5 separate regions of the Homo sapiens genome follow, and regions 2, 3, 4 and 5 are each linked to region 1. Evidence: fine-mapped expression QTL. A gene starts in region 1. Each other region holds a variant in brackets. All regions are shown on one strand. Distances are from middle to middle. Region 1 holds the start of LRP12 (LDL receptor related protein 12). Region 2 overlaps LRP12 (LDL receptor related protein 12). Region 3 overlaps LRP12 (LDL receptor related protein 12). Region 4 has its middle 74 kb from the start of LRP12. Region 5 has its middle 32 kb from the start of LRP12.

The links. PIP is the estimated chance that this variant, and not a neighbour inherited with it, causes the effect.
Region 2: its variant is the best candidate, but not a certain one, in a credible set for the expression of LRP12 in blood mononuclear cells (TOPMed, PIP 0.90).
Region 3: its variant is the best candidate, but not a certain one, in a credible set for the expression of LRP12 in monocytes (TOPMed, PIP 0.64).
Region 4: its variant is the best candidate, but not a certain one, in a credible set for the expression of LRP12 in esophagus mucosa (GTEx, PIP 0.52).
Region 5: its variant is the best candidate, but not a certain one, in a credible set for the expression of LRP12 in whole blood (TOPMed, PIP 0.72).

What each region holds. Positions count from the first base shown.
Region 1 is chr8:104,586,325-104,591,432 of GRCh38, reverse strand. It overlaps LRP12 (LDL receptor related protein 12), which reads left to right and starts at 2,175. Exons shown (of 7, transcript NM_013437.5): 1 at 2,175-2,614. The coding sequence starts at 2,536. RefSeq lists silencers at 2,137-2,476, 2,907-3,016.
Region 2 is chr8:104,502,059-104,507,166 of GRCh38, reverse strand. The region is part of intron 3 of LRP12 (LDL receptor related protein 12); the gene reads left to right. Among named protein-coding and RNA genes, the nearest start is that of MIR548A3, 20 kb to the right of the region's middle. The variant G/C (reference allele first, on the strand shown) is at 2,115.
Region 3 is chr8:104,516,680-104,521,787 of GRCh38, reverse strand. The region is part of intron 2 of LRP12 (LDL receptor related protein 12); the gene reads left to right. Among named protein-coding and RNA genes, the nearest start is that of MIR548A3, 35 kb to the right of the region's middle. The variant A/G (reference allele first, on the strand shown) is at 2,907.
Region 4 is chr8:104,661,071-104,666,178 of GRCh38, reverse strand. No RefSeq gene overlaps it. Among named protein-coding and RNA genes, the nearest start is that of LRP12, 74 kb to the right of the region's middle. RefSeq lists enhancers at 503-552, 179-1,378. The variant A/G (reference allele first, on the strand shown) is at 2,945.
Region 5 is chr8:104,619,036-104,624,143 of GRCh38, reverse strand. No RefSeq gene overlaps it. Among named protein-coding and RNA genes, the nearest start is that of LRP12, 32 kb to the right of the region's middle. The variant T/C (reference allele first, on the strand shown) is at 2,846.

The sequences.
Region 1 (5,108 bases):
TAATTTCTAAATGCTAAATATCAATAGCTATGACCCACATAAATAAAAGTTCTTTGGTGTCCTCACCAAATTGTAAGTGTTATGGGGGGTCCAGATACCCAAAAGTTTGATAACCTGGCAAGTCTGAGAAGACACATCTGGGTGGATGAGCAAGTGTAGGGGTGGGAGGGGTGTGACAGGAACTGATGAGGGCACTGTGTGTCTCGTGTTCGGGACAGGATTCCTTGAATGGTACTAAAAGTGGACAGGGGAGGATGCAGTCCAGTCTACTCCTTCACTCTGCTTGTGGCCTGTTCTTAACACAGCTCTCATGGAAGCGCAATTTAGAGAAAGCAATCTTAAGAAACAAGAAAGTAGAGTTTAGAATCCCAAAATTAGGAAAGACAACTGCAATTTGTTTAGTGAAAAACACTGAAGTTGCTTCTTTCCAACAAGAATGGAAAACATTTTTGGAGTGCTGGTTGCTTTTTTTACCAGATGATATAAGATTTGTTAATTATTAGATTTTTGTAATACTTATTAATACATTTTTCTCTTATCTTTTGGAATAGCATTTCCTGGTTTTAAAAAAAAAAACTTAAAAGGGGGCAAATCGGCAGGAGACTGAGGAAAAGCCTAAATGTATTCCCCAGAAAGTATGTTTTAAATTTTAACATTTACTTACTGAGAGGTGAGGCCAGCTGAACTTCCTGGGTCCAGTGGGGACTTGAGGAACTTTCCTGTCTTACAAGAGGATTGTAAAATGCACCAATCAGCGCTCTGTAAAATGCACCAATCAGCACTCTGTAAAACGCACCAATCAGCAGGATTCCAAAAGTAGCCAATCGCAGGGAGGATTGAAAGAGGGGCACTCCGATAGGACAGAAATGGAACATGGGAGGGGACCACAAGGGAATAAAAGCTGGCCACCACCAGCCAGCACCTGGGGTTCTCTTCCATGCTGTGGAAGCTGTCCTTTTGCTCTTCGCAATAAACCTTGCTACCGCTCACTCTTTGAGTCCGTGCCATCTTTAAGAGCTGTTAACAGTCACCGGGAAGGTCTGCAGCTTCATTCTTGAAGTCAGGGAGACCACGAACCCCCTGGCAGGCACCAACTCCGACACATTACTAGGCGCTAAGCATTGTGCTAGAGAGTTTGCTGTGGTATAGGGGCAACAATCTTTACTTTGGAATGAGAAAAACTGTTTCAAACAACTTACTTGCCATGAGTAATTTAATTTCTCTCTTTTCTATAAAACATGGGTAATATTTATCTCACAAGGATGTTTGGGATTAAAAAGTGACAACCTATGTCAATAGGACAGCATGATGCAGTGTAGGTCTTCAATGAATAGCATGGAGAGTGCTTGCAAAGGGCAACGATAAAATCTAATATAAATAAGACGTTGTAGACAAACGCTTTAAAAACACAGGGGGTAAGGTCTGATGTGCCAGCGTCACTACAGACGTACTTAGAAAAGTGTTCTGGGGATCTAAGTAAAGGAGGACTCCCATTTGCTGGGAGTGAGAAAAGAGCTTTAGGGAAACTGCAGCGTGATGGGCGAATCCTCCTTTCAATATATCTACCCTGAAAGTCGGCTCCAGCCCTGCCGAACATCCTGGCCCAGCTGCACCCGACCCAGCGTGAGATGTCAAATGACCTCTTGGCGCTTCCACGCCAGACTGGAGGGGCTCTGCACAAGCCTTGCCCGACTCATTCCGGGCACCTTGAGCGTGGGAGTCCACACTGCCCCTTGACCGACCAGCTGCCAGGTTGGCCGCACTAACTTGAGCCCACCCCCACTCGAAGCTCCGCGCCGACAGCAAGTGGAGACTTGGGGGTACCGGATAGAGGAAGGAACTCCCAAGTTGTCAGCTTCAGACCATCCACGCCTCCCCCAACACGGAACCACCTTCAGCCTCCCAGCTGGTATCCCACCCCCCCTCCCCCCACCCGCTGGGCCAGAGCCCAGCCCTCGGACAGCGACCGTGCTCCTCCACACACCCCGCGCTCCAGCCCCTGGGCATCCAGCAGCCGGCGTTCGCACGCTCTGTCATCGATTGGCGCTGCCTTGCTCCTTGGGCTCCCGTCGCGTGGAAATCGGCCCGAAACTTGGAAAGTCCAGCGGAGCGCGGGGAGGGAACCGAGGCAGGCGGGCCAGGGGATTGCCGATCGCACGGATGGGCGCGCGCTCAGTCTGGCGAGTGGCGGCGCCGGCTAGCCCGAGCGGCGCGAGGCCGGAGTCCGGCGTCCGCCACCCTCTCGTCTCGCGCTGGCGCGCGAGCTCCTTGCCCTTGCCCCCAGGAGGGCCGCCCCGCGTGGGGCTCTCGCACCGCCCGGGGTGGGAGCAGGCGAGCCGGAGGGAGGAGGGAGGAGGGAGCGCGCGCGGGCGGCGGCGGCCCCTCCCTTCCCCCTCCCGCAGCCGCGGAGAGCGCAGGGAGCAGCCGGTGGCTCGGCGGCGGCGGCGGCGGCGGCGGCGGCGTCGGCGTCGTCTACCTCCAGCTTCTCCTCCCTCCTCCTCCGTCTCCTCCTCTCTCTCTCCATCTGCTGTGGTTATGGCCTGTCGCTGGAGCACAAAAGAGTCTCCGCGGTGGAGGTCTGCGTTGCTCTTGCTTTTCCTCGCTGGGGTGTACGGTAAGTGTCCGCGTCCCCGCGCCCCGCTGACCGAACAAAGCTGAGGCGACCCGGGCCCCGAGGCCTCCAGGACGGGGGTTCCCCTGGAGACTCCCGCGGAGACCCTGGCTACCGGCGGGACAAAGACCGGTGAGGGGGTGGATGTGGCGGAACGGGTGTCCCCACACGGAGATGCTTTTCTCCACTCGTCCACCTCCAGACCCTCGGGTGGTGGAGAGGGGCTGGGGGGCCCGGCCGGGAGGGCCCCGGCGGAGCGAGGGGGTGGCGGGCGGACTTCCCGACCTGGGTTCGAGGGCCCCCGCGGCCAGTTGCTCCAGGACCCGTAGCCTGGCACAATCCACACACAAAGATGCTTGACTGTGAGAAAGCAGAGGAGCTCGCCCCCGCCGCTGCCGGGACGGTCCTTCCCCCCGCCCCCTCAACCCGGGGTTAGGAAGTTCTCTCACCGGCGAGATTCCCACCGCGCCAGCCCTTGTCCTACTCGATTCCCTGAAAAGGCTTCCCGCTGACTTCTCCCCACTCCACCTCGGGGGCAAGGGCTCTGCCGAATCCGGGCGTGCAGGGTCCTGTTGGTTCCCCGGGAGCAGCACGCGGGAGAAGGCCAGAAAATAGTTTCCAGCCCCACCTCAGTCTCTCCTGTTAGGGTGTACACATCTGTCCTGACTCCTAGTTCAATTGTAATTTCATCCATCCTCGTCCGCCGCTGTGGTCACTGTTACTTTATTCCAGTCGATGGATCGGGTTAGAGATAACTCCTTTCGGGTTAAGAGAAGGCTGAAGACTGTGCGGACAGCTTTATATTGCGTTGGGGTCTGAGCAAGAGCTGAATGGAATTAATTGCAAAGAACATCTATCTCTTAAGATAATTAAGTTACACTTCTGACTTCACCGTTCTTAGTTCATCAGTTAAACACACTGAATAGGTATTTCAGAGAGCTCAGTTTTAACCTTTCCTTTTTGGAGTGTTGCTCTGATTTCTCCAGAAAAAGAATTAGAAGATATCATTACTTTGGTAAATTTTACTTATAAAAAGTCTAATTCATTTGCCACAAACATTGATTTGACTAGTATAATGGTGGTGGTGGTGAGGTTTAGTCAACAGCCAATTTGTCAGCAAGTGTTATCTCTTTTGAAGGCATTTATCTACGGAATTGAATGTGATGGTGGCTTTTGAAACCTGGCAAGTGACGCTAAATGAAGAATTAATGAACGTAATTGGGCATTTACTGACAGCCAAGAAATTCTTTTTGGTACAATTAAGGATGTGTTGCTCCCGTACCTGATTAGTAGTATTTTTGTTTGTTTTGGTGAGGAGAGTAGTTTGGTCCATTTTTTATGTAGGGGTAATTGCCAGAGGTGTGCTTGTGTGGGACCAAAAACCCAGTACACGACTTTTGATTGTTAGCTGCATCAAGTGGCTGTAATCCCTGCTTGCCTGATGACTTGTGGGTTTGGGTCTACACCAGAGATCAATAAGCTATTACGTTGTTTCTTCTGCCCTGAAGGTGGGTATAGTTCTGCTCTAGGTTTGGTGTAATGGCCCAGGAGAGAGAAGAAATTGAGAGGTATCTTTAATTTAGGGTGATTAGGATTGTCCAGCTTTGTCCTCTACTATAATAAGCATTGAATTTCTGTGATGTCCGATCAGAATAGATAAATAAATGGGCTCTTCTTTCATTAAAACCTGTGTCATCAGTGTTTGAACTAGAAGTCTTTTGCCTCGAGGGATAAGAGGCTGTGAACCCCTCAATTTGTTTTGGTGCATTCTTTAGTACTTGTACACAAAGTGACTTTCTGGTAGGTGCCTATCAAAGCTTTTATCTTTTTGGAATTTGTGTTCAGTGAGGAACACAAATTGTTAGTAAGCAAAGACTGAAACTCCTTTTTCCAACAGTGTGGGCCGCAGATTATAAAACCAGCAGGTGATTATGCCAAAGGTTGATGTCTCAAGCCACAGCAGGTTTCAAAGTGTAAAAAAAAAAAGGAGGTAGTGAACCAGGCAGAACATTAAACTATATCAGCAGAGATTAAAGGGAACCCTTCACCCTGGAACTGAGAAATCCTCTTTATGGCTGCATGTTTTTTGTCCTCTTCTGTCTCTAACCATATGTGGGTTTATAATAGTGAAAAAGGGCTGTAACAATAGTATGGGGTGGATGTGGTTCTATAACAATAGTGGGAATTGAGTAACTTAGAATATATAGTAGTTGTAATGGGTGGTGGATGCATCCTGAGAAATAGCTGTCGCCTTGAGCCTGTTAGAACAGATACTAGCTGTAATTTATGAAACTGTCCTCTATACAGTAAAAAGTGTGTGTGTGTTTTAAAAGGCTTCAAAAATAATTAGCTCTGTTAATGAAACTGAATATTCACAATCACTGTTAACAAAGAAAAGCAGGTTGATTGGCCAATATTTAGGGAACTCCAATATTAATTCTTCACAGAGTGACTCTTAAATGAAATGACTCTAAGGTGTGCTTCAGATTTTTGAAAC
Region 2 (5,108 bases), 84 kb after region 1:
TTTACATATGATTATCATTGCATAATCTTAAATGATTCAAAAGAATCATATGCATAATTAAATGTAGCTCTTTTAGACATACAAATGAGTCAGTATTAGGAAATATTAAATTAACTTACCATGTAAACAAGTCAAAAGAAAAAGTATATGATTATCTAGTGTACACAGATGCTTTGAAGCATCTTGGTAAAAAAGAAAATCAGCATTCATTCCTGAATTTAAAATAAAAATTTTAAATTCTTAGTAAAATGGAATTAGAAACATGATTTTTTAAAATCTGGATAGAAGAGGGAAACTAAAGTTACGGAGTAAAAACAATACTGAGAACTGTCTGTATAAAACTTGCTTAAGATGGTGAAATAAAGGCATTTTTACTTCATTCCTCTCCCTTGGAACCCACTATAATCAACAAAGGCCACCTTATCCATGGGGAAGAGAGGATTGAATACCAGCACCCTGCTTGAAGCCAAGGACTAGGGACGGGCAATTTTGCTCCAGACAGGAGGCTGAAAAATCTTCCACCAACCACAGCCTGAATTTATATGGGGCTGAGAGCTTAGAGAGCTGAGAGGGCATAACCTAACAAACATGAATAACTATGTCACCTGCTGACTCCATGAAAGGATCTGTAATACTCTGAACCATCATTTAAGACTTGTTCTGGAATGTAGACCCAAGTAGGGGAACATAGAAGAAGAGAGGATTAAAAAAAAGAGAGAAAACCAAAAAACTTCCATAAAATAAACCTGTAAACCAAAATTCCAGAATGTGTGAAAAAATTGAATGCTGAGAAAAACAGCCAAACAAAATTAAGTTGGAACTCAAATTTACTCCAGGCATTTTAAGATGTATTCTGTCAGGAATTATTTCTTAACTTTCTTTATGCCACGGCCACCTAGTATTCTGGTAAAACCTATGTATTCTTTCCCAGAATAATGTGTTTAAATTCATTAAAAAAAATACATAGCATTACAAAGGGAACCAATTATGTTAAAGTACAGCTATCAGATATTTTTTAATATTTGTAATGTAATATATGCTTATTTATGAACACATTAGCAAAATCAAGTGGTTAATTTCAAAGAAAAAATTTTACGTGTAAATAGTATTTTTAGATATCTGTAAAAACTGAAATGTAACATAAAAATATCTCTAATTTTGAATAGTGGTGGAGTGGCCAGTGCTATAAATACTGTCATGGTTTGTTGTTTATAAGTGTAGGAAATGCTAAATTTTAGTAAAAGGTTAGTGAAAATAAAGCTTTAAATTGTTTCTACCCTATTTGTGATTTTTGAGGGGACAGGAGAAACACCGAATATTCTTACTTGGACTTTGTTAGAAAAAAAGTGTGTTTCAGCATTTCAGTTAAAATATCAAAAGGTAGCCACTGATTAAAAATAGGAGTAATATTGAGCAGTTAACAGAGGAAAAGGAACTTTAAAAATATATTCAAAAAAGACAGGAAGCTAGATGTGGTGGCTCACGCCTGTAATCCCAGCACTTTGGGAGGCTGAGGCAGGCAGATCACTTGAGGTCAGGAGTTTGAGACCAGCCTGGCCAACATAGCGAAACCTCATCTCTACTAAAAATACAAAAATTAGCTGGGCATGGTGGCACGCGCCTATAATCCTAGCTACTCAGGAGGCTGAGGCATGATAACTGCTTGAACCCAGGAGGTGGAGGTTACAGAGCCAAGATCATGCCACTGTGCTCCAGCCTAGGCAACAGAGTGAAACCCTGTCTCAAAAAAAAAAAAAAAAAAAAAAAGGAAAGAAGGAAAATGAGAACTCTCTCCCAAGTAGAAAGGTTGTAACACATCTAAAACAAAACTAATACAGAATGTCTAAAAACAAGGAGATGGGCCAGATGCTGTGGCTCGTGCCTGTAATCCTAGCATTTTGGAAGGCCAAGGTAGGCTCAGGAATTCGACACCAGCCTGGGCAAGGTGGTGAAACCCTGTCTTTACAAAAAATACAAAAAACTAGCTGGGCATGATGGCACGTTGCCTGTGGTCCCAGCTACTCAGGAGGCTGAGGTGGGAGGATTACCGGAGCCCAGGAGGTTGAGGCTGCAGTGAGCCATGAATGCACCACTGCACTCCAGCTTGGGTGGAA[G/C]AATGAGACTTAGTCTTAAAAATAAACAAAAACAAAACGAGATAGAAAAGGTTAGTTTTGGAGCTACTCATCAAGAGAAAGCTAGTGTAGGAAGATTAACATCCATTGTAATTGAGCTTAAGGCACAAAATACTAGTAACAATTGGGGTATTCTACCAGGAAAATAAACCAGCAGTAAATTTCATTTACTTAATTACATAGCCTAAAATACATGCAAAGCAAAATGTGGAGAATTGCCCGGCAAATTTGACCAATCCACAGTTGCAGTGGGAGATTTTTAACACACCTTTAATACTTATTTCAACAAAGAATACACATTCTTTTCAAAGACATGTGGAACATTTATAAAAATTGATTATGTTTCACATCACAAAGGAACTCTTAATACATTTCAAAGACTGTACATCATTCAGATTGTGTTTTCTTACCACAATGCAATTAAAATAAAAGAAAAAAATAAACCTGTATGTTTAGAAATATATTCCTAAATAACTCCTGAATTAAAGAGGAAATCACAATGGGACCAAATATTTTTTAAATAACCATAGTGAAAGTAATACATATTAAAACTGTTAGAATACATTGAAAGAATACTTAGAAAAGTTTACAACTTTAATGCATTGATTTAAAAATTAGAAAATAAATAAGCTCAGCATTTAACTCAAGAGTTAAGGAAAAGAATTAGAGGGTAAATTTTAAAGTAGCAGTAAAGACCAGGAAAATACGCAATAAAATTCAATAAAACAAAAAGCTGACTTTCTGAAAAACTCAGGAAAATAGATAAAACTCAAAGCAAAACTGAAGAAAAAGAGAAGATAAAAAGAGCAAAAGTGTCTGTAGTTATAAACAAAATTTTTAATGTCATAAGAGAATATTATAAGCAGTTTTATGTTAATACTTTTATACAAGTAGATGAATTGGATTATTTTTTAGAAAATTTATATTACTAAAATTGATTCAAGAAGAATTAGAAAACGGATGAAATCAGTAGCCATTGAAGAAATTGAATCAGCATTCAAATTAAGACTCTAGAACTAGTTTTATAGGCAAGTTTTACTAAATGAATAGAAAAGGAATTTCCTTAACCTGGTAAAGGGTGTCTGTTTAAAAATTTTCAAAAGCAAATTTAATGTCAAAGTTAATTATAGCACCAAGGACCAAGACAAAAATGTGTGCTTTTACTGGTTATAGTAGAATTCTTAGTGAATGCAACAGTGCAACAGATAGAAATCAGTGATATAAAGAAAATAGGAAGGAAGAGAAAACCTTTATTTGCTAATTATATGTTTGTTTTAAGCAGTCTAAAGCAAACTTAAAGATCACAGATAGGAAAAAATGTCTTTAAATTGTATGAAAGTACTGTGTACAGAGCTTTGTAGTAATAAATTTTACTATCAACATAAGATCAATTTCTAAGAAAATTTAAATGGTCAAAAGTTTAAGAAACACTGATTAAACCAAAAAACATCAAGAAATTGAAACTCTCTCCCTGACTCAATATATTCTAAATAGGCACAGAGCACAAATATGTCAACAGTGCTTTTATTACACAAAGTACTATGAAGCATTTAAAAAACCAAAAAGTAATTTTACTTATTTAAAAATCCTAAATGAATTAGCAAACTAAAATAGGGTATACATGAACAGATATTTATTGTTTCTTATTCTAAACAAGGTTTCTGCCTTCATGAATCTTTTTTTTTTTTTTTTTTTTTTTTTTTTTTGAGAGACACAGTCTCGCTTTGTCACCCAGGCTGGAGTGCAGTGGCGCCATCTTGGCTCACTGCAACCTTTGCCTCCCGGGTTCAAGCAGTTCTCCCGCCTCAGCCTCCCGAGTAGCTGGGATTACAGGTGTGTAAAAACTAAAACTCTGAAATGCTTAAAAAATAGTTGAACATCTTTGGGATCTTTGGAAACACCAAGATAGCTTAGAGAGGACACTAAATGCACTAAACATAAAGCAAAAATAAAAAATTAGACTTCATCAAGACTAAAATTAAAAACCACGCCCAACTAATTTTTGTATTTTTAGTAGAGATAGGGTTTCACCTTGTTGGCCAGGTTGGTCTCGAACTTCTGACCTCAGGTGATCCACCCACCTCAGCCTCCCAAAGTTCTGGGATTACGGCGTGAGCCACCTCTCCCAGCCTTTGCCTTCATGAATCTTAAATGTTTAGTGGACTAAAAGTTTATTAAGGGATTCCCTAGTTTGAATGGGACTAGACCTCCCATAAACAAGAGCTATTAAGTTTGGATAAGATATTTTAAAACCAAACTAGGGATTCCCTAGTTTGAATGGGACTAGACCTCCCATAAACAAGAGCTATTAAGTTTGGAAAAGATATTTGAAGGCTCTGGAGAGTAATAAAAAACTGGCAAAAACTGGAGAGTATTCCACCCCTGAAAGAAGGAACCACACTTCGTGAGATAGGCTTGTTTCCTACCAGTTCTCTGAAGATTCTTGCCAGTCTGTGCAACGTGGAGTGACTGGAACTCAAGCAGATCACCGTGGTCTTGTCAGCTTGAGGTGTCAGGATGCAGTTGAGGATGGGACAGTAACTGGAAATTAATAAGGTAACTCCTGGAAAGGAGAGAACCACAAGCTGGAAAGTAACTGCATTTAAATTATTCTCGAATCCTTAGCTGACCCATGAATTGTGTGTGCTTAAAGAAGACTCCAAGGAACCTGCTGGAAAGTAACAGCAGGAAGGCTGAAGATTTCAGCTGCTGCACCCCACAGCAGAGGCAGCATGTGGAGTTTGAATCCTGTCCATCACAGGGGAGACCGAGTATAGGGCTTCATAAATAAATGCCTTGAGATTTTTAATGAAACTCTGTGTGTCATACTTTACAAGTAAAGACAGTGTCCTTAAACTAAGAATTCCCCCTAAGACTAAGGGCAAAGCAGAAACAAACTCACTTTAAACAAGTGTAAAACCAAACCTCCTCAAGTTCATAGTCATCAGACTAATTTAACTGTGTGATAGAACAAAA
Region 3 (5,108 bases), 70 kb after region 1:
AGATGAAGAAAAGAAAGAAGCCTTATTACATTTTAGTTGATTATTAATACATTAGGGTTTTTAGGATTTCAGAATATAAAAACAGAACATAGTTTGAACCCAAGAAGCTATCCTTTATATAAAGAAAATGAGTAGGGAATATGAGACAGAGTAAATTCTTGATATATATATATATAAAAACATTACTATAGGATGCTAATAATTTTTAAAGTCATTGTCTACCTTCAGAGTTTACTTCTGAGACACTTAAAGTTTTAAAGTAGCGAACTCCCTTTAAGTTTTGGAAATGAAACTAATGGTGGTATTATTATTTCTATATTATATACTCTATAATTGAATCATGGCCAATGTCTTATATGAAACATCTTTATATTATATAATTGTAACCTATTTTATATTATATATCACATATTTATTGAACAATTATGTATTTATAACAAAATAATTATGTTATATTTTTATGTTACATTACAGGTTGACTATCCCAAATCTGAAAATCCAAAAATCAAAATGCTCCAAAATCCAAAACATTTTGAGCAACGACATAACACTCAAAGGAAATGCTCATTGGAGCATTTCACACTTCAGATTTTTGGTTTTGGGATGCTCAACTAGTAAGTATATATCTGTACATATTCCAGAATTTGAAGAAAAAAAAATCAAAATACTTCTGGTCCCAAGGATTTTGAATAAGGAATACTCATTGTATGTTATAATAAACAATAACTCCAGCATTAGAACAGCACGTGTGAGTACCAGAACTATAGACAGAACAGGTTGTATTGTGACAGGGTATGCAGTGCTTAGATGGTAGAAGTGAAGTTCATCTGATGGATATATCCATTTCATTGAGTGAGCCAAACCTAGTGAACGTAAAAAGGCAAGCTCTGTTCAAGCATTTGACATTTTCTTTTCCAGTCTGTAACTTTGGGAATAACTCTTCAAAGTTGATAACATGTTGGTTATCTGTAATTTTTGCCAAGGCATGAATTTTAATTGGATGTACTGTGAAACTGTTGTGCAAAAGCCAGTCACTTGGTGGATAAGCAAACTGTACTTGGGTATCAGTTGACTAACAGCCTGATGTAAGTAAGGGGGTGATTTGATATTAAACTGCAGTAATAGAAATACAGTATCCAGAACCAAGCAAATGATAGTTCTTCTTTACTCTTCATGCAAACGTACTCTGGTATTGTTTATTTCTGGGTACCACCCTTGACAAAAGACACAGTAACTGGAACACTCATAGAAGATGTGAGTATACTAAAAACTATGTCAAAGCTGATAGAGATGACCTACAAAATCGTGAGCTCCAAGGCCAGTTTGTTAGCTTAAGTGAGGATTTCTGCCTTACCTTTTTATGCTTCCAGCCAGAGTCACAGTAACCTTCAAAAATTAGTAATTTTTCCCATTTGGGAAATAGTAGTAGCTTGCTTTAGCATTTTAGTCTTCTGTAGTGCTTAAAATAGGAAAATGTAGGTACCATGTTAGTAATTTTTATACCCTTGCAGGAAAAAAAAATTGCCCTCATAAGCCCTTTAAAAAAGGCATAAAAGGATGAATCTTCTCTATTCATCTTACGTTATGCATTGTTAGCAAAATCCTAAATTATTCTTACTAAGAAATTTCAGGGTGAAGCTGGCTAGTTAGTTCCATTTTAGGTGGGTATATTCAGTTTCTTTGCTCTCCTCATCTTCATTCATACTGTGCTATGACCCGTTTTTTTTTTATTTCTCCTTCTCTCTTTATATTTTTGCCTCTTCTGACTTTGTATTTTATTTTACTGCCATATAACCCTTGATTATAGTTTGATTGTTCTGAACATTAGTGACCTTCAAGATACCAAGAAATTACCTGCCTTGATTACAGCTGATAGCCAAGTAAAATATTTTGGTCCTTAAAGAATGTCACTTAGAATAATATGAATAAATATATTGCTGTATTCAGTCTTAAATATCGGTACTAATGCAGAAGAATATTTAAATTATAAACAGCTGGATATAAGATTTCCTACTTGCCATGGCACTTGCGGTTTCTAATAATAAGTCTCAGAGTAATGAGAGTCCTAAGTGGGAGTGATGGATTAATATCATTTTTTCTGCTTGCCTGATTCTTGTCTTTCAAGTCATAGTTAAAACCTTTCCCATCTTAGACTAGTAAATATTGCTACAAGTTGAGCATCCCTAATCTAAAAATCTGAAATTTGAAATGCTCCAGAATCTTTTAGAGCACTGACATGATGCTCACAGGAAATACTCATTGAAGCATTTCAGATTTTGGATTAGGGATGTTCAACCAGTATGTATGCGCAAATATTCCAAATTTTGAAATCCAAAACACTTTTGGTCCCAAGCATTTTGGATTAGGGATACTCAACCTATGTTCAAGTGCTAGTAATTATTCCCATACAGGGAGAAGTTCAGTTTTCTAACTTCTTTTTTAAAAAGAATGAAATTTGGAGTAATTCTAAGGAAATCTTACTCATGTTCAATCTCTGTCCCCTTCCAACTCTGTCCATCCTCAAAATGTTGACTTCTGACATTCACATTATAACGCAGCTTGGCTCAGGTGCCAAGGAGTCAGAAAACCCCATTTAAAGAGTCTGGAGGGTCAGAGAAATCAGGACACTATTTAGGCAACAAACACAGTCAAGATACAGGAAGAGGACTTTTGAATCAAAGTAATTTCTGCCTAGCTGTGGGCGTGTGTTTCCTGTTCAGGTTACAGGGCTTAGTTATGTTATACATGGCAGTCCAACAAAGGGCAACTATAGTACTCTAACTTATTTTTCTTGCAGATTCCAACAGTTGGTCACTTGCCTTGTATTCTCAGTGGCCCATAGACTCTATGCTGAACATGCATGCTTTCCAGACTGTCCATTATTAAGTGTCTTTAAGTATCTGTCC[A/G]TTGCTCTTTCCTTTGAAATGTCTCCCTCAGCCTCCACTTCATCCCCTTATTGCTACTATTCTACTCCTTGCCCTAAGCATCTTACCCATAATTAACTATATGTATATATGTTCTCTTATCATTAAAAGTAGGTTCTAGAATGCTGTTTATAAAATTTTTAATACCAAAGATACTAAGAAGCTGGTCAGTTCTGCCTGTAGTTCTTAGATAATGTGTAGCAAATAAGGAATCAATCTTTAGAAGCTTTAAAACTACTAACTATACTTATTTTCTCTGTGTTATTATAGATTATCTACCCTTTCTATCCATGTTAATGTAGGACCAATAGTTCATTTTTCTAGAATAGACCACTTTTGTCATTTAAATGCTATTGAAACGGCTCCCTTCCACCTCCCTGGTAATTTTTCCAGATGTTATAGGGAGTTCGTTAGTGGGCAGCAGTTTGCCTTAGTGGTTAAGAATACAGCTTTTATGAAGCCTCTTGTCTGGGTTCCATCCCAGCTCTGAGACTTACAGCTTTTTTGTGACCTTAGAAAAATTACCAAATTTCTCTGTGCCTCCATTTTTTTCTTATCTGTTAAATAGGGATAATAATAATAAGTATTAAGGTACCTGCCAGGTAATAAGAGTTCAATAAGTGTTAGGTAATTTTATAACATTATCATCAGCTGTGGATCCAAGGCCTGCATACATGCTTCACTTTAATGATACTTACAGTTCTTGGACTTGGAAACCATATATTTCTGACTTGAAGCAGAAATCTCATCCTCAGCACTATGTGTCATACTTAGCCTTTTAAGTTTTCAAACTGCTATTATTTTCCTAAATTAACAGTAGGCCAGGAGGTACCTGATTTTTATGCTAATCATCTAACTACATACTCTGCTTTTTCCATGTTTGGGTGCCTTTAGTTGTTTGCATAAGCATAATATTTTCCATGTATTGAATGATTCACTTGTTAACTTTCAGAATAATTTTTACTGTCATCCCATATGGCCATTCAATCCAGACACCATTTGCTTACCAAATTTTTATTTTGGAGATGGTGGGTTTCTTTAAGTACATTTATTTCCATTGGAATCAAATCCTTCTTACTAGTTTTCAACACTTGGAATTGCTTTTGTACTCATCAGCCATAATGGAATTAATATTCTTTATAATACACTCTATACAGTACTCTGAAAAATGAGATGGCCAAATGACACTAACCACCGTTACCTATATATGCTATTATCCTTTGCTTATGAACAGAGTGAGCATGATTTTGCTGTCGTGAAACTTTCATAAAGTAAAATTGTACAAAAAGATGAGTTTTTATAATTGCTTTTTAGGTGATCTCTTTGCCTCACTGGTTTCTCTTCCCTCAATAACCTTTACAAAATACTTGGATCACATCACTTCCTTTTGTAGTAGGTCTGTCTTGGCTTGACTGCTGTCTATAGAATTTGGGTCATTAAATTCTTTTAACTAGTTTAGAGTATGCTTTTCTGTGGCTCTACCAACTTCTCTTCTATGAAAGAAATCTTTTGTTCATAGTCAAGCATAACCTTCTCTGTTCTATACTTGTATAATATAGGTTTTTGGTCGGCCTTTGTTTCTGTTTAATTACACCATGTCTATAACTGAACATGTGATACTTTGCCTAAAGTTACTTGTTATGCATTAAATCATGTACTGTATTATCTGGTATGCTGTCATATTAACTGTTATATGCTTCTTGGATTCAGTTAAAAAGTATATGTCATTGTTATAAAACTATAATTTCCATGAGAACATGAGTTCTCTATTTCTTTTGTGCCCTTCATATGTGTCTTATAAAGTTAGGTGGTCAGTAAACATAAACAGACATTTACTTGCATTTCAGTTTTGTGATTTATTAAAATCAAAGTCAAAGATTTCACATAACTTTTAGTCTCAACTACTTTTTGTCATGAAGTATCAACTCTTGTCAGTTTTAAAAAACCCAGTTCTTCATCTGTGGAGCAGGAAATTATACTTTTTCTTTGACAGTAGTTCAGCTCTAATTGTAAATATGTACTTTTTCTGTAATTTTTTAGGTGTTTTGAAACTATGAAATCTCAAATTGTAAGACAGCTTGACTTTATTTTGAAGTGATCCTCCCTCTTTCATGTGTCTTCTTAATAGAGGCTGAGCACTGCCAATTTTTTAAATAATTGATTTAAATATAATAAGTATGATGC
Region 4 (5,108 bases), 75 kb before region 1:
GAGGATTCTTGCTAAGAAGAGCAAGGCCAATAAGAGCAGGTGCCAGGAGCCTTTCACCATCAGGATGCTCCTCTGCTGAGAGAAATTGCCAAGTGCAGCTGAGGCATCCCTGACAGATGATTTGATGGTTAACAGGAACCATCATTATAGCATCAGAGTATCTGGATGGAAGAATTTCAATGCCCAGAGGTCTTTAGCTTTTTCCCTCTTTATAGACCTTGTCATCTTTGAAATCAAGAGAATTGTTGAGTTTTTCTTTTTAACATAGTTGTCACCAAAAAGGAAGAATAATAATTTTCTGGCTAGAAATCCAATAGAGCTAAAGGCTCAGAAAACCACATAGACACTGAGTTGTCAGCCCGCGATTTCCTGTGGCCCAGAAAAGAGGGTAAATGGGCTGCAATTTGTAGTAAGAGTCTCACAGCAAATGCAATGGTAAGCACAGTCTGCCGACTAAACTAGCAGAAGAAGTGGTGGGTGGGTGAAGATTACAGCAGGATATGACGGCAAAAGATTTTAAGGAGAGCCAAATATTTTAGAGCCTGAAGCAGAAAGATAAAGAGTGTAGTGTTTCTAAAATCAGACATCTAGGGTTACCAACCATCCTGGTTTGCCTGGGACTGTCCTAGTTTTAGTATGGAAAGTCCTGCTTCCCAGGAAACCCCTCCGTCCTAAGCAAACTGGGAAAATTGGTCACCCTGAGTCCAGTTAGTTTGCAACTTACAGATAGTGTGACTGCTACTCACAATCCCACTAACAGCATGACTCACTTAGTATCAGTGTGACTCAGCATCTCTCAGTAACTTACTTAGCACCTTTGAGATTTAGTTTCTTCATCTGTAAAATGAGGATACTAGTGCTTATTCACAACCAATAAAAGGAGATCAGAAGTACTTTTTGGTATCGTAGTTCTATTCCTGTACAGATGCAGAGGCTTGCCTCACAGTCAACTCTAAGCACAATAGCACCTAAGACAAGAATACAGAGAGAAAACTGAGTAATCTACCTTTAGACAGTATGGAGTCAGAAGGATTGTAGTACTAGGGTTCTAGCACTGATGGCAGCCTTTTTGCACCCTGGTAAGTTTTTGGGTTTTTTTGTTTTATCTTTTTGTAGAGGTGGGGTCTCACCATGTTGCTCAGGCTGATCTCGAATTCCTGTGCTCAAGCAATCCTCCTGCCTCAGCCTCCTGAGTAGCTAGAACTACAGGTGTGCACCATGGCACCTGGCTCGCCTTGGAGTGACTTAGGCAATGCAAAAATAGCCTGGCAGCCCAGAGCTTTCAGGAACAAAGTAATAGTAGGAGTTTGCAAAAAGAGTATGTTTATTATAATTTTGCACATATGCCCTGAAATGTCTGTGACAAATATGCAAGCTATCCAGCTTGTTTTGTCTTATAAACAGAACAAAAATTGTGGATAAGTTTATTAAATGTAGCCTGTCAAGTGTAAACAAATTGACATTATTCTGAGAGCAATATTATAGACAATTTACATTTTATTGCCTTTACATTGTCTCTCTCCTGTTGGAGGTAGTTTTTTGCCCTGCTTGGACTCATAGAGCTGGCTATTTTTATTTGAATAGCTGCACTTTCAGATTCATATGTTCCAATCAAGTTAATGGCCCTTGTTTTTGCTGCTGATATAGGTCATGACTAAGCTACTTCATGCTTGAATTTTTACTTCTTACCACAAGTGTTTCTAGACAATGACCATAAAAAATGACTTTTAAAAAAATCCAGCTTTTTAAGGTGATATCATTTGGTCAGGGTCTAATACTACCCCTTCAAGAAGAATGTTCTCGCAAGGTCGCTGTGCCCCAACTTTTAAAAAGCATGCTTTGGGGGGACTTTTTAAGTATAATGTCAAAAGAAGCTGTGGCATACGTTCATGAATGATAAACAGAGGTAAAATGAAAGCCAAAAAGAAACACTCTGGTCAGGGATGAGGTGTGGGAGGATTCAATGAAGAAGAAAAGTAAACCTTATCAACTACTATGAAGACCAAGAGATTTACCAGAGCAATGATGCACAAGTCTTAAGAAATGAATTGTGATCTTTAAACTATACTTGAGGAAAGAAATGAAATGAATAGACATAAAATTTTAACATGACTGGGAGAACATGAAATTTAGGAAAACAAAACTTCACAACCAAAAAATTCCCAACCATAATACTTAAAGGAAAGAAAATAATGTTTTGTTCCCCCTTCTATGTGCTCCAAGCACTGAACTGGCTGCTCTCCTTGCATAAATTTTGTGAGATAGGTATTGGAATCCATATTCAATCTAAAAAGAATAAGAAACTTATTGAAGGTTACATAGCATTAAGTAACTGCTGGGCTTTGAACTCAAGTCTGTCTGTTTCCAGAGTACATATATAGTTCAAATCAATTAATATAGCCAATTTTCAAAAATTGATTTGCATAAGACTTCTATTTTTAAGGACTTAAAAATTATGATTTCATTTGACTTATTTGTTAACTTCTAAACCAAGTGTCTGCCAATGTCTCTTAGGCCCATCCTCGAACTGTGAGCATTCATTCATAGCTGATAAACATAATTTTCTTAAAGGTTTTAGGCCACAGCAGAATGGGACATCAGATCTTTGCCAATTAGGCAGTAAGTATCAATTTTGAGAAGAGTCAGCTAGGTTTGTACCCCTCCTCAACTAGCAGTGGGACCTAGGCAAGTCATTTACTCTCTCTAAGCTTCAGATTCCTCATCTAAAAATGGGGATAATAATAGTATATGTCTCTAATAATCGTATATGTGTTTAAAGATGAAATTAAGTGGTATTAAAGCAATTCTCATAGCACCTGGTGAAGAATAGGGTTTTATCTGAATCACTACGTACAGTCATTTGCAGGGATCCAGGAGTTTGGTCATTTTCAAAGCAATCTACACATATCCTATATTGAAACAGAAATCCCTAGGATTAGTTAGG[A/G]TCTATTTAATGTCCCAGGAGTTATGAGTATGTACTGAGGCTGCTTTGGCTTCAAACAACCCAGTCAATGCCTATAGAGACCTAGATAAAGATCGCTTTATACTGGGATTTGGGCACTTGTTTGGGCAGGCCATAAGAGATAATTATACCCACCTTAGTGCACTCAGCCAGAACAATCCAACGGCTGGCAAAGAAAGGAAGTACTGCCATTCATCTTCCATCTGTCTGTGACTGGGCCACACCAGTGCCTTGCCCTTGCCAATCCCTCAGTATTTAAGGATCAGAGTCATGCCATTTACCTTAGTATGCATCTTGAAGCATATGCAATAATTTATCCAGGCACTATTCTAAGGACTGGGGATGGAGAGGCAAGTAAGACAAACAAGGACCATTCTCCTAGGCAGCTCCCATTCCCAGTAGAGATACACACAATAAAAAATATGATTTTTCAACAGCAAAAGAAGTTATGAAAGAAATGAAATGGGACATTGGGATAGAGAGTGATTGGAGGGTCCAGAGTAATCTTAGAAGGCATCTCTGAGGGGTAACATCTGAGCTGGGACTTAAAATACTTTAGAAAGTAAGTGGTGACATAGGAAGTAAGGGAGGCAGTCATTAAAAGATCGTATTACATAAAAGCTAGTACACAAGACCCTGGAGTGTCTCAGAGATATTAAGACTGTAAAATAAATGCATTTTTTAACATATTCACAACGAAACCTCTTGCATCATAAGAGGAAGATTAACCATAAAGGTATGTCCACTTCTAAAGTATTTTGTCCAGACATAGCATCCTGCCTGTCTGCTTCTATTTCCTGCCATCTCTGTTCAAGACCAAGATACTATCCTTAAGTGAAAATGACTTTTACCTCTTTAAGCCTCTGTATCCTCATCCATCAAATGGAAATAACAATGCCTCAGAATTGTTTCATGACTTGTAGTGAGGACTAAAAGAGACCATAGACACAGAACCATCTACAGAGCATATGCTTCCAATCCACCTGAAAAAAAAATGGCAAATCTGTGTGACTTTGAATAGACATGAGAGAGATTCAGAGTGATGTTTTTTAATGTAGCTGTGTAGGATTTTTTTCATAAAAGTTTAAATATGTGAGATCTTTGCACTAACAAAAATATAAGAACCATAGAACCAAATAAGAAAAAGCAAAGCAGGCCAGGCACAGTGGCTCACTCCTGTAATCCCAGCACTTTGGGAGGCTGAGGAGGGCAGATCACTTGAGGCCAGGAGTTCAAGACCAGCCTGGCCAACATAGTGAAACTCTGTCTCTACTAAACATACAAAAAATTAGTTGAGCCTGGTAGTGTACGCCTGTAATCCCAGCTACTCGGGAGGCTGAGGCACAAGAGTCACTTGAACCCAGGAGGCAGAGGTTGCGGTGAGCTGAGATCGTGCCACTGCACTCCAGCCTGGGCGACAGAGCAAGAGTCTGCCTAGGAAAAAAAAAAAAAAGCAAAACAGATGAGTATTACAAGGTGAGGAAGGAATGGGAGAATAAAAAAGAGTGACATCCAGCCTCCAGAGGAATGAATGCAAGCCCCAGAGGATCTTGATGCTGCCTTGCCATCAGGAAAAGTACTGTGTTCCTGAGTCACAGAGTCCCATAGGCCTTGTTCCTGAAAGGCACATCAAGGAACCTTACTAGAAAAACTAACAGGCCTGAATTCATGTTTTCCCACACACAGCATTACTTTCCATCTCCTTTGGATTAAATCAATTTGGATGTTTTGTGAGCAAAAACATTATAGTAGAGAATTACAGTGGTTATTTTTTCATTCAGTCCACAAACATGCACTGATCCCTTTTCATGTACCATGTATCATGCAGGGCCCTATAGCTGGGAGAGTTGTGAGGTCCTCTTCACTCCTACTCTCATGTCAGGGCAGTGCTTCTGGGTGTGAATTCCCAATGGAATGAAATCAATTTACACAATGCTTGTGCACAAGTTCTTGAAATGGAATATTAAGCCATTGCTGTAAAGCTAATAGTGGATTAGCATATTCCCTTTGGAGTGTGGCAAAGGGAGTAGGAGGCATGGTTAATTACCAGAGGAGGTTTGAGAAAACTAGTCAGTTATCTAACAACTTAACATTCTCCAATGCTGTTTAACATTCAACAACTGTAAATGGAAATTGGCCCTAGCTA
Region 5 (5,108 bases), 33 kb before region 1:
GTTAGTTTGCTTAGGATAACGGCCTCCAGCATCCAAGTTGCTGCAAAGGACAAGATTTTATTCTTTTTTATGACAGCATAGTATGACCCCATTAAAAGATGGGCAACGGACATGAACAGACACTTCTCAAAAGAAGACATACAAGCAGCCAAATATAGAATGATTCTAGGTTTCTTACTATCCTTCTTTTTTTAAAAAATCACAGATTTATCTCCTTTATATGTTGTAAATAATTCTATAAAGCAATATAACATTGCCAATTTCTTCTTTCATACCCTCATCATTTCTTGCTTTTATCATAACCAATATTATTAGTCAGTTTATATAGTTCCTGGTTCAGTCAATATTTTTTGCATGTTTATATGAGAAAATGCTCATCATCACTAATCATCAGAGAAATGTAAATCAAAACCGCAATGAGATACCAGCTCATAACGGTCATGACCTTGGTTTAAAAAAGTCCAAAACATCTAAAAACAGCAGATGCCGGTGAGGCTGTAAAGGGAAATACTTATACAGTGCTTGTGAGAATTTAAATTAGTCCAACCACTGTTGAGAGCAGTTTGGAGATTTCCCAAAGAGCTAAGAGTTGAACTACCATTCAATCCAGCAATCCCATTACTGGATATATACCCAAAGGAAAATAAGTCATTCTACCAAAAGACACATGAGCCATTTGTTCATTACAGCCCTATTCACAGTAGCAGAGACATGGAATCAACCCAGGTGCCCATCAGTTCTGAAATGGATAAAGAAAATATGGTGCATATACACCAGGAATACTACACAGCCAGTCTTCTTTTGGTGAATAAAAGCTTTGCTAAAACTCCACCCCCACCAACACACACACACATTTCTAAGTGGTGTCTGTTTTAAAAGACCTTAAAATATATAATTAAGAGAATGATTATTCCCATAGTAAGCTGAATAGACACAGTCTTTTACAAGCCTCTTCTTCAAGTCTTTAAAACTGCTGAGCTATACTTGACTCGTGAGCCCTAAAACCACATGTGCACTTCAGCAAAAACTAGGTCAATAGTGAAATTTGACTAGTGTGAGAAACCATCACTTCCTCATATTATTAGACACTTTGCTGTATCTTTCAAAATACAACAGCACAACAATGCTTATTAGAATTCATTGATCTACTTGCCTCCTTTTTATCCCTTGCCATGCATGAACAAGGCTAATCCTTAGGGATCACCTATGTATTCATTTAAATGTTATTTATTCTACATCTGTGTGTATCTTCTATGAGCTAAGTGCTGGGAATACAAAAATTAATAAGACCCTGACCCTGCCATTAAGAAGCTCAGATATTGCAAGGGAAGTAGACAAATAAACAACTGCAATGGGACCCTGAGATAACGACTCGCTTCCTTCAAATGGGGTTAGCAAAGTTTTTATCTTAAGAGTAAGGCAGAGTAGAAACCACAGGAATCCCTCCCCCAACCCTGCTTTTCTTACTTTAAAATAGCAGCTGGTATCTCCTGTAATGACAACGCAATGACATGAAAATTGCAACAATATACTATGGCAGATGTCAACAGAGATGGTATTTAAACTGCACCCTAAAGAATAAGATGGAAAAAGGATGGAGGGCATTTCAGGAAAAGGTAACATGAGGGTGTGAGAAAACATAAAATGTTCTGGGAAAAAAAACTACTCCAGCATAGCAAAAGTGTAGAATTTCACTACACACAAATGTAGAAAAGATAAGATACAGAGCAGGGAATCAAGTCTTGAAAAATAAATTGGAGATAGAGTATAAAACTTAAATGCATTTGGTCTCTATGTTATTGCCAATGAGAGTCATATCAGACTCTAAAGAAACAGAGTAAGACAATTCATCAACCCAGTACTTTGTGGCTCTTGTTGCTACCACTTCACTAAAACTATACTTGTCAAGGTCAAACATAGTCTCCATGTTGCACATTAGTGTTTTTAAAACATTACGTTGGTGGCTATATAGAAAGCTGATTGAAGAGGGTTAAGACTTATGGTAGCAGTACGAGTTGGGAGATTGCTGCTGCCACAATTAAAGCAAGAAATGATGAGGGTATAAAATAAGAAATTGGCAATGTTTATATTGCTTTATTGAATTATTTACAACATAGAAAGGGAGAAATCTGTGATTTGTAATAAGTGGAGCACAGTGCGAAATCTAGGATCATTTTCTAGTTCCTAGTTTGGTCAATTGCATGAGAAAGATGAGCAATTTAAGGAATCATGTAATAATTTCCATGGTAGACTGTGTTGAATTTGAGTTGATTCTGGGTCATTCAGGCAGGGGATTCAAGGTAGAAGTATGTGTCTGATACTCACATGTAAGAGTAAGGGCTAGAGATACGGATTTCAATATCTTCTGAATTCGCCCATATTAATCTTACATTCTACTTCTGTTCTCATGGAAACTTATATTTTAATCTGTATGTTCAAAGGGAAGATCATTCTACTTGATTTGTTATCGACAGCCAATATTATTAGTCAATTTACTTAAGTCATTCATAAAACATAACTAGTACTGAATCTGAATTTAGTGAAAAAGTTGAGAGCTGGCTGTAGTCAGAGAAGAGATCTATGTGAAAACCACAAGGACATTATTAGCTCCTAGGAATATTCCTAAAATGGTAAAATCATGTGTTTACATATTTGTGAGTTAGCTCTCATTCATTTGAATTCTTATTTTAGAATTCATTTGTCTTTTCAAAATAATTTGAATTTGAATTCTAAAATAAGAAGTGTTATAGTGTTTATCAACCTACTCCAATATGGCTTACATATTCCATGGAAACTATTTTTGTCAAGTTCACCAACAATCTTTGTGTTGAAAATTCAGTGGGCA[T/C]TTTTCTTCCCTCATCTTAAGCAACTTCTCTCACCTTTCCACATAGAAAGGTACTTCTTTTTCTTGACATACTCTTCTGGCTTTGGCTTAGTTTCCTCCTGTCTCACTGACTATTTCTTTTCGGTCACTATCTCCTTCTCCTTCTCCAATACTCCTTCTCCAATACTTGACCTCTAAATGTCCCAGAGCTTCTCTTTTCTTTTTTTGTACACTTTTCCCCAAGCCATTCCTGTACCTTCAAATACTTTCTATTTTTTGTGACATCCAAATTTATATTTAAAAGATCCAGGAAACAGACATATATATCCAACTGCTTATTTGATATCTCCATTTGGATGTTTCATAGGTATCTCAGATTTAACAAATCCAGTACAGATCTTTTGCTTCTTCTCCATCCACACCTCCCAAAACTCTTCTTTTCCTGATGTTCCCAATCATGGTAAGGGGCAGTTTCACAAGCCAGAAACATACAAGTCAACCCTGATCCTTTCCTTACCCACATTCACAATCCTTCTGCCTTCAGTCCATCAGTCATTTCTACCTCCAAAATATACTTAGAATACTCTCCACTGTCTCTGTCTCCTCTGCCACTACCCTAGTTTGAGCCACCATCATGTCTCACCTGGACTAATCCATTCAATATCTGACTGATCTCTCTGCTTCTTATGTGTCCCTCTCCAATCTACTCTTCATCCAGCAGTCAAGTACTCTTTTAAAAGTATATGTAGATTTATGTCAGTTCCTATGTAAGAAAAAAAAATCATTTACTTCCCAGAGCATTTGGAATATAACCCAAACTCTGCAAGGCCCCACAAAACATTTTCTCTTAGCCTATTCAACCCATTGCTCCCTGGGATGCAGCCACACTGGCCTCTCTATAATTCCTAGACCCTGCCAGACCTGTTCCCTTTTCTAAGAAGACTCTTTCCTTATTCTTTGCATAGTTGCTTCTTCATCTTCTGCTTGGATAGTAAATGTTCCTTAGAGAAATATCCCCTGGCCACCTTATCTAAAGAAGCCTGACCCCTTACATGTACCTCATTCTCTACCACAGAATTATCTTTATTTTACAGCACTTTACAACACAAATTATAATCATTGTGTTTATATTTATATTTATATATATATATATATTTATTCTCCATCTCCTCCACTGGAATACAACCTCCAAAAGGACACAGCCATGTCTGGTGGTCCATTGCTACACTGTTATCTCTCTGCTTGAAATAATTCTTCCTTTGGTTAACAGAATGACTCTCTTCAGTCCCGTGCTACTAATATTGCCACTCCTTCTACAGCCAGATCCCCCTCCTCCCTGGTCCTTTAATGTTGGTAATTGCCAGGGATACTGTCTTTATTTATTTCCAATATTAACATTCTCCTATGTTTCCCAGGCCTGGCGCATGGTGGCACTGAATAAAATGCTGGGAGGAAGGAAGACAAGAACAAGATGCAGGTAGGAAGGGAGAGACGCAGGAAAGAAAGGAGAGACAGGCTGTAGGTAACCAGAAACTAAAGGTTTTATTTTCAGGGAAACTTCAGAGGATATTACATAAGGACAGTAGCTTCAGTTTTTGCAGTTCTTAAACACTGTGTCAGAAGAACTTCTGTAAGCAAACATTTGGAATTTGCCTTGTGACATCAACATTCACACAACCGAGAGAATTAAAGCTGGTAATTAAGGCTGGCAATCAGGGTTTTTCAGCTCTTACGGATTTAATAACTCTTAATTTGCAAATGCTTGTACCAGAAAGACTGCATCTTCAAAAAAATCAAAAACATGAAAACACAACTAATAAACAAGCACCCATGTTTGATTAAATATCAGAGGAAGAATGAAAACCTGAAGAAAACATTCAAATGATTTCATCTGTCCTAATAAAACATAAGGAAGAGAATGTTTGAAGGATGTTTTGGAGCGTGCTTGGCAGAACTGCGGTTATGCCAAATCTCACCTCCTTCCACCAAGTTTCAAAGGAAGAAGTATCTTTCTTGTTCTAAGCTAGCCTCTCCACCTGGGTTCCTGAATCCATTTCCTCCCATGTCCTCAAGTACTTTACTTTAAATGTTATTTCTTCTTTCTCCTGTTTTTCAACATCTTGCCCTCTCCATAGGCTCCTTCTCAAAAGCTTAAACAAGCTTAGCTTCCTATTTCAAAATACACACTCATTGGCTTTTAATTCTCCACTAGCTATCTCCATCTCTTCTCAGCAAGCTCATCCAAAGACTAGTCTTTCTTCCATTATTGCCTCTTCAGTGAACT